Homo sapiens: one gene and its partner. The protein of the gene in region 1 interacts with the protein of each later gene in a pairwise test. Each region holds a gene or a part of one and is shown in the gene's direction. Other genes may lie near its edges. The genes, in order: NHSL3 and SFRP1.

What was found.
Region 2: the proteins of NHSL3 (region 1) and SFRP1 interact in a two-hybrid assay, tested with the Homo sapiens proteins (one large-scale study listed by BioGRID and IntAct).

What each region holds. Positions count from the first base shown.
Region 1 is NC_000001.11:32,769,031-32,772,829, forward strand, and holds part of NHSL3 (NHS-like protein 3), read left to right. Parts: intron 1-642; coding exon 643-756; intron 757-849; coding exon 850-3,411; intron 3,412-3,799. UniProt on the Homo sapiens protein: Able to directly activate the TNF-NFkappaB signaling pathway.
Region 2 is NC_000008.11:41,306,484-41,311,010, reverse strand, and holds the start of SFRP1 (secreted frizzled-related protein 1 precursor), read left to right. Parts: upstream 1-1,537; 5' UTR 1,538-1,851; coding exon 1,852-2,395; intron 2,396-4,527. UniProt on the Homo sapiens protein: Soluble frizzled-related proteins (sFRPS) function as modulators of Wnt signaling through direct interaction with Wnts. They have a role in regulating cell growth and differentiation in specific cell types. SFRP1 decreases intracellular beta-catenin levels.

The sequences.
Region 1 (3,799 bases):
ACGAGGTCAGGAGATCGAGACCATCCTGGCTAACACGGTGAATGAAACCCCGTCTCTACTAAAAATACAAAAAATTAGCCTTGCCTGATGGCGGGTGCCTGTAGTCCCAGCTACTTGGGAGGCTGAGGCAGGAGAATGGCGTGAACCCAGGAGGTGGAGCTTGCAGTGAGCCGAGATTGCACCACTGCACTCCAGCCTGGTCGACAGTGTGAGACTCCATCTCAAAAAAAAAATAAAAAAAGAGTTAGAAAATCTTAACTGTTGGAAGCCTGGTGTAACTAACTAGTGCCAGCTGTGTGACCTTGGGAAAACCCTTAACCTCTCTGAACTTCTGTTTGATGTTCTATAAAAATGAGGATAAGTACCCTATTGGAATGAATGCCAAATGTTTAGAATGACGACTAACACGTAATAATATGTTTACTAAATAGTAAGCTATCACTAAAGGGAAATTACCATCATTGACTTAGTAGCCTTAGTCTTACAGAAAGAAGCCTCTAGCTTTGTTTAACCTAGCCTTGCCCATACCTACTTGACTGTGGAAACCATTTCTCGCAGAGCTCTTATTACAAAAGTAGTGCCCTGCAGAATGTGCCTGGAGTCCTTTGCTCTAACAGTTTTTCTCCCACGACTGGCCCCCAGGCTCCACCTTCCGACCCCATGACTCATTTCCCAAATCTGGAAAGTCAGGGCGGCGTCGGCGGGAGCGGCGGAGCACTGTGCTGGGACTCCCGCAGCATGTGCAGAAGGAGCTTGGTGAGGCCTGGGTTAGGAGGGCAGTGGTGGGGTGGGTGGGGAGCCTTGGTCATCCCCTCTCTGCTGACCCCACCTCCTCCCTGTCCCTTCCAGGCCTGAGGAATGAGCGTGAGGCACCAGGCACGCCCCGGGCTCCTGGTGCACGGGATGCCGTACGCATCCCCACAGTGGACGGCCGCCCCCGAGGCACCTCAGGGATGGGGGCCCGGGTGTCCCTGCAGGCGCTGGAGGCGGAGGCGGAGGCTGGCGCTGAGACAGAGGCCATGCTGCAGCGCCACATTGACCGTGTCTACCGGGATGACACCTTTGTTGGCCGGTCCACGGGTACCCGGGCCCCACCATTGACCCGGCCCATGTCCCTAGCAGTGCCTGGATTGACAGGAGGGGCAGGGCCTGCAGAGCCCCTGAGCCCGGCCATGTCCATCTCCCCCCAGGCCACCTACCTGTCGAAGTTGATTCCACATGCTGTGCTGCCGCCTACAGTGGACGTGGTGGCCCTAGGCCGCTGCAGCCTGCGCACACTAAGCCGCTGCAGCCTGCACTCGGCCAGCCCAGCCTCAGTCCGCTCGCTGGGGCGCTTCTCCTCCGTCTCCAGCCCACAGCCCCGCAGCCGCCACCCATCCTCCTCCAGTGACACCTGGAGCCACTCTCAATCCTCCGACACCATTGTGTCTGACGGTTCCACCCTCTCCTCTAAGGGTGGCTCTGAGGGCCAGCCGGAGAGCTCTACGGCTAGCAATAGCGTGGTACCCCCTCCCCAGGGAGGCAGTGGGAGGGGCTCTCCCAGTGGGGGCAGCACTGCTGAGGCCTCAGACACACTCAGCATTCGGAGCAGTGGGCAGTTGTCTGGCCGGAGTGTGTCCCTGCGTAAGCTGAAGCGGCCTCCACCCCCTCCCCGCCGGACCCACTCCCTCCATCAGCGGGGCTTAGCAGTGCCTGATGGGCCATTAGGGTTGCCCCCTAAGCCTGAGCGTAAGCAGCAGCCCCAGCTGCCTCGGCCACCCACCACTGGTGGCTCAGAAGGGGCGGGGGCAGCACCCTGTCCACCCAACCCAGCCAACAGCTGGGTACCTGGCTTGTCTCCGGGTGGTTCCCGGCGCCCCCCACGGTCCCCAGAACGGACACTTTCGCCCTCCAGTGGATACTCGAGCCAAAGTGGTACTCCCACCCTCCCTCCCAAGGGCCTGGCAGGTCCCCCTGCTTCCCCAGGCAAGGCCCAGCCCCCTAAACCAGAGCGTGTCACGTCTCTTCGCTCCCCTGGGGCCTCCGTCTCCTCTTCCCTCACGTCTTTATGTTCCTCCTCCTCTGACCCAGCCCCCTCAGACCGCTCTGGGCCACAGATATTGACCCCCCTGGGTGACAGGTTTGTCATACCTCCTCACCCCAAGGTGCCTGCCCCCTTCTCCCCACCTCCCTCCAAGCCCAGGAGCCCTAACCCAGCTGCCCCTGCTCTAGCCGCCCCTGCTGTGGTTCCTGGGCCTGTTTCTACCACTGACGCCAGTCCTCAGTCCCCTCCCACTCCCCAGACAACCTTGACTCCACTGCAGGAGTCTCCTGTCATCTCCAAAGACCAGTCACCCCCACCTTCCCCACCCCCATCTTATCATCCACCCCCACCACCCACTAAGAAGCCAGAGGTGGTTGTGGAGGCACCATCTGCCTCAGAGACTGCTGAGGAGCCCCTCCAAGATCCCAACTGGCCCCCTCCCCCACCCCCTGCCCCTGAGGAGCAGGACCTGTCCATGGCTGACTTCCCCCCACCAGAGGAGGCTTTTTTCTCTGTGGCCAGCCCTGAGCCTGCAGGCCCTTCAGGCTCCCCAGAGCTTGTCAGCTCCCCGGCTGCTTCGTCCTCCTCAGCTACTGCTTTGCAGATTCAGCCCCCGGGTAGCCCAGACCCTCCTCCAGCTCCGCCAGCCCCAGCTCCTGCTAGTTCCGCCCCAGGGCATGTGGCCAAGCTCCCTCAGAAGGAACCGGTGGGCTGTAGCAAGGGTGGTGGGCCTCCCAGGGAGGACGTAGGTGCGCCCCTGGTCACGCCCTCGCTCCTGCAGATGGTGCGGCTGCGCTCCGTGGGTGCTCCAGGAGGGGCTCCCACCCCAGCACTGGGGCCATCGGCCCCCCAGAAACCACTGCGAAGGGCCCTGTCAGGGCGGGCCAGCCCAGTGCCTGCCCCCTCCTCAGGGCTCCATGCTGCGGTCCGACTCAAGGCCTGCAGCCTGGCCGCCAGTGAAGGCCTCTCAAGTGCTCAGCCCAACGGACCGCCTGAGGCAGAGCCACGGCCTCCCCAGTCCCCTGCCTCAACGGCCAGTTTCATCTTCTCCAAGGGCTCTAGGAAGCTGCAGCTGGAGCGGCCCGTGTCCCCTGAGACCCAGGCTGACCTCCAGCGGAATCTGGTGGCAGAACTCCGGAGCATCTCAGAGCAGCGGCCACCCCAGGCCCCAAAGAAGTCACCTAAGGCTCCCCCACCTGTGGCCCGCAAGCCGTCTGTGGGAGTCCCCCCACCCGCCTCCCCCAGTTACCCTCGAGCTGAGCCCCTTACTGCTCCTCCCACCAATGGGCTCCCTCACACCCAGGACAGGACTAAGAGGGAGCTGGCGGAGAATGGAGGTGTCCTGCAGCTGGTGGGCCCAGAGGAGAAGATGGGCCTCCCGGGCTCAGGTACAGTGGGCAGTGCTAGGGTGAGGTCCCATTGCTGATGATGGGAAGTAGGAATCTGAAGTCCCGCCATGGGGGATTTGTTCTTGGATCTTTAACTTTTCTGGTCTGAGAATGCCTGGGAAGGGCAAGCTGTCACCCTTGCTGGGGCCCAGAGGAGAATGGTGTGTGAGTGTCAGGCCTACTGTGTTTGAATTCCAACTTTGCCTCTTTCCCTACCCTTCCTAGCTACATTGTAAAGTGTGGGGCAGTGACACCTACATTATAGTGTCTGAACATGTGTAGGGTGTCCAGCCCAGTGCTGCGGGCACTGTCAGTAAATCAAAGCGGTAAGAAGGTTGGGTGAGGGTATGCTTTGTTGGGCTCCTAGTGCCAGAACCAAGCCAGGAGG
Region 2 (4,527 bases), on another chromosome or scaffold:
AACAAGCTGGCGGGCAAGGCAGCGCGCCCTATAGTGTCTCTGTGGAGCGCTAAGATCTGTGACCCCTTTGCCACATGGGGTGTGCGCTCAGACTGGGCTATGAATATATCAGCCTCTCTCCACCCGCACTTAGGGACAGAAGATATGGAGACTCCAGGAACTTCATGAACTATTTGCTGTGGTCTTCTGTCCCGGGATAGTCCGGGTCTCACTCCCAGCTCTCCAGAGCTTAACCCTCCCTCTCAGGGGAATGTTTGAAACCTACGAAGAATTCTCAGGAATTCGAGGTAGAAGGTGGCAGAGAGACTTCTGTTCCTGGGGGCCGAGCTGTTGTGCTGATACCGTCCTCTTGGCGTCTGCCCTAGTGGGGACCCTTGATTTTAACTTGAAGTTCCTGGACTGGGTCTAACCTTAGCATGTGTGCCTGAGTGATGGACTTGGTATTTACACCAGCCACGCTGATAAGTGCACATGTGTTTTTAATGTTTTGGCTTTCCACACCACAAACACACAGATGTGCTGTCGCCCGGGCTAGGACTTGAGTAGGGTTTTTCTATTTAAATATATATTATATATTTAAAAAAGTGTCCTCCCAGAGCTAATACCGTTGCTAGCAGCTCTTCCTGCCGCCACACCGGGCAAAGTCCACCCACTGCCCCAGTGTTGAGGGCCACCATGGGCGGCCCCACCTGGAGAGGTGCTGCTCACAGCAAACAGCTCCAACTGCGCCTTCGCCTCGCCTTCCAGGGAGCCCAGCCAGGCCCACTGGGTATTTACAAGCAGACCTCCCTCGCTTCAGCCTTCCTGAACCCCTGTTAGTTGGGAAACCACCTGTCTGCACCGCAGCTAGAGAACCGAGGAGAGGAGCCGCTAGTCTAAAGGGCTGTTGGTTGAAATTAGGAAGCAGTGTAAAGAAAAAGAAAAAAAAAGTTTGGGAGGCCAAGGCAGGAGCATCACCTGAGGTCAGGAGTTCGAGACCAGCCTGGCTAACATGGTGAAACCCCGTCTCTACTAAAAATACAAAAAATTAGCGGGGGCATGGTGGCACGCGGCTGTAATCCCAGCTACTCGGGAGGCTGAGGCAGGAGAATCGCTTGAACCCGGGAGGCGGAGGTTGCAGTCAGCGGAGATAGCGCCATTGCACTCCAGCTTAGGCAACAAGAGCGAAACTGTCTCAAAAAAAAAAAGTCTTCATAATTTCATGGGTTTGCAAGTATGATCCAGGCTCCCCGCTTCTCTGCAAGCCAATGCGAGTTAATTACAGCGTCCGCCCTGGTCTCTCTCCACCCCACGCCGTGATCCATTCCCCTTCTTTTTCTCCCCTTGTCTCTTTCCTCCTCCCCCTTTTATTTATGTATTTTTGGTTTTGTTTTTTAAGGGGTGTTGAGCCGCGTCTGGTTCTAGTAAACCGAACCCGCTCGCGAGGGAGGCGATTGGCTCCCGCGCCGGTGACGGACGTGGTAACGAGTGCGGCTCGCCCCGCCGGGAGCTGATTGGCTGCGCGGGGCGGCTCCGAGGGCTCGGCCGTAGGAGCCCCGCGCACTCCAGCCCTGCAGCCTCCGGAGTCAGTGCCGCGCGCCCGCCGCCCCGCGCCTTCCTGCTCGCCGCACCTCCGGGAGCCGGGGCGCACCCAGCCCGCAGCGCCGCCTCCCCGCCCGCGCCGCCTCCGACCGCAGGCCGAGGGCCGCCACTGGCCGGGGGGACCGGGCAGCAGCTTGCGGCCGCGGAGCCGGGCAACGCTGGGGACTGCGCCTTTTGTCCCCGGAGGTCCCTGGAAGTTTGCGGCAGGACGCGCGCGGGGAGGCGGCGGAGGCAGCCCCGACGTCGCGGAGAACAGGGCGCAGAGCCGGCATGGGCATCGGGCGCAGCGAGGGGGGCCGCCGCGGGGCAGCCCTGGGCGTGCTGCTGGCGCTGGGCGCGGCGCTTCTGGCCGTGGGCTCGGCCAGCGAGTACGACTACGTGAGCTTCCAGTCGGACATCGGCCCGTACCAGAGCGGGCGCTTCTACACCAAGCCACCTCAGTGCGTGGACATCCCCGCGGACCTGCGGCTGTGCCACAACGTGGGCTACAAGAAGATGGTGCTGCCCAACCTGCTGGAGCACGAGACCATGGCGGAGGTGAAGCAGCAGGCCAGCAGCTGGGTGCCCCTGCTCAACAAGAACTGCCACGCCGGCACCCAGGTCTTCCTCTGCTCGCTCTTCGCGCCCGTCTGCCTGGACCGGCCCATCTACCCGTGTCGCTGGCTCTGCGAGGCCGTGCGCGACTCGTGCGAGCCGGTCATGCAGTTCTTCGGCTTCTACTGGCCCGAGATGCTTAAGTGTGACAAGTTCCCCGAGGGGGACGTCTGCATCGCCATGACGCCGCCCAATGCCACCGAAGCCTCCAAGCCCCAAGGTAAGGCTGCCTCCTCCCACGTGCGCGAGCCGCCCCCTCCATCCCCCGGCCGGAGCTGCAGGAGAACCCGCGCCACCCTACGCCCGCCCGCCGCTGGGTCCCGGTGCTGGGGACTGAGGGCCCGAGGTTGCTCGCATGCTGTGCACGTGATTCCTAAGCGCGTCTGGTCTGTCCCAGGTATCGCTCAGCGCCCCTCGCGACCCAGGTGCACGGCGGGGCTGGCCCGGGAGCGGCAGCTCTGCGCCTTGGCCTCGCAGGGACTCGCTGTGGTCCCCGGAGCCGCTCTTCCTGGGATCCAACTTCGCCTTTCCCATACCTGAAACAAAGCCTTGCGCTTTAAATAACAGGGGAGCTTCCCTCTCCTCTAGGAGGACTCCGAGTCCCTATCGAAGTTTTTAACCTCTGAGACGGGAGGAAAAAACAAAAACCCAAAGCGTAGAAAGTTCAGAAAGGCCGAGAGAATGCTTGGAGCAGCTTTTGTTTATTTTCATAGGTTCGACAAAGATTTAAAAAATAAAACCAAGCCCTTTCCTTCACTGGTCATTCAGTCAAGTAGCCTTGGGATTGCTGCAAAACTGGCTGAGAAAGTTTAGGAACCGTGGGGACTTCTGTTTCTCCACCCCTTCCAGGTACCAGCTCTGCCCTCGGAGGGCTGGGGGTGGAAAGTCTTTTCTCCCTCCCTCTAGCGTACCCCCTGCTTTTCTCATTTACACAAATCCTCAGCTCATTAGAAAGATAAAAATGTAATTAGCTCATTGTTCATCTCCTCCCGGGGAGAGCAGCTCTGCAAAATGCAGACTTTCCTAACAGCCTGAGGGACCGGCCCGAGGTTCCTCTCAAAACCCCCTTATGTTTAAAGAGCAATTCTTGAGGGGGAAGAAAAAAAAATCCTGGGAAGTCAAATAAAATGAAATAGATATAAAGATAAAATATACACATCACAGACCTGACTTCTATAGAAGTAAATTCAACCCAGAATTCTTTAGAAGCGAAGTTTAGGCTCTGAGGTGTGGAGAGGGTCAGGGATTGGGGAGCTGTACCCCAGCTGCGCTTAGCACAGACGCAGGCTTCCTGAGGGCTTTTTGAGGAGGGCCTTTAGGGTGGGGGAGAAAGACTGCCTACACTTAGCTCACCTTAAAGTGTCTTTAACCTCTGTTATTGATGCTAAAAGAGGGGAGTGCAGTCACCTGGCTCCTCAGAGTGAGGATTTGGGCAGGTGGGGGAAAGGGATACCCCAAATTTTAGATGCTTTTGCTTATTCTAGGGAGGGTGGAGATGGGTCCACAGTGACTGTCGTTGGATGGCTGGATGGGAACGGCACTGATTGCCCGCAGTGGCCAGGTCTGGGCACCGCTGCTCTCAGAGTCAACTCTGGTGTTGGGAGTGGAGTGAGGGTAGCGGATGCATCTGCACTTTGTGAGCGAGAACTGAGCAGTTACCTGGAGCAAACAAAGCGCCTTGTGTTCTGTTGGCTTGCACCCATCCCCTGCAGCCTGCGGGAATTTCCTTCTCCCCTTCCTCAGCCAGCGGGGATTAGCCCAGCCCTGCCCTGTGAGGCTGTGCCCAGCCCTGACCTGGAGTCCATTCCCAATGGCTTCCGATGGTCTCTTTCTGGGACCGTCTGCAGACATGAGTGGACACCTTAGGGGGCTCGGCTGCGGAAAAGGTGCTGCAGTCCACAGGGAACATGGGGGGATTGGACGGGTTGCCTGAAGAAGAGAGGAAAGAATCCCTCACCCCAGCCCCCAAAAGGCTGTGATGGGATGGGGAAACCCCATAATCGCTGTCTTCCGGACACCTTTTGCCCCTTGGCTGCAGTTCCACTGGTCGGCGCCCTTCTCAGCCTGGCTTGGAACCGTCCTCACTCACCTCCACTCCTCCCAGCAGCGCTCAGGTAGTCACCCTCCCAAGACAGGTCTTTGAGGAGCAAAGAGAAAAGTGGGGAGAGGGCCGGTCGGGAGTGGGGCTTGGGACTGGTTTTCCCCTCAGTGGTTTTGGTGGGGGGCTCTGCCCTGAGATGGCACACCACCCTCCCCAGGACTGCAATCCCTGGTGTAAGGGAGCCCCACGTGATTTCCTGCGAGGTCCCTGTGGAGGGGAGGGTGGGGCGTGTGTGTGTGTGTGTGTGTGTG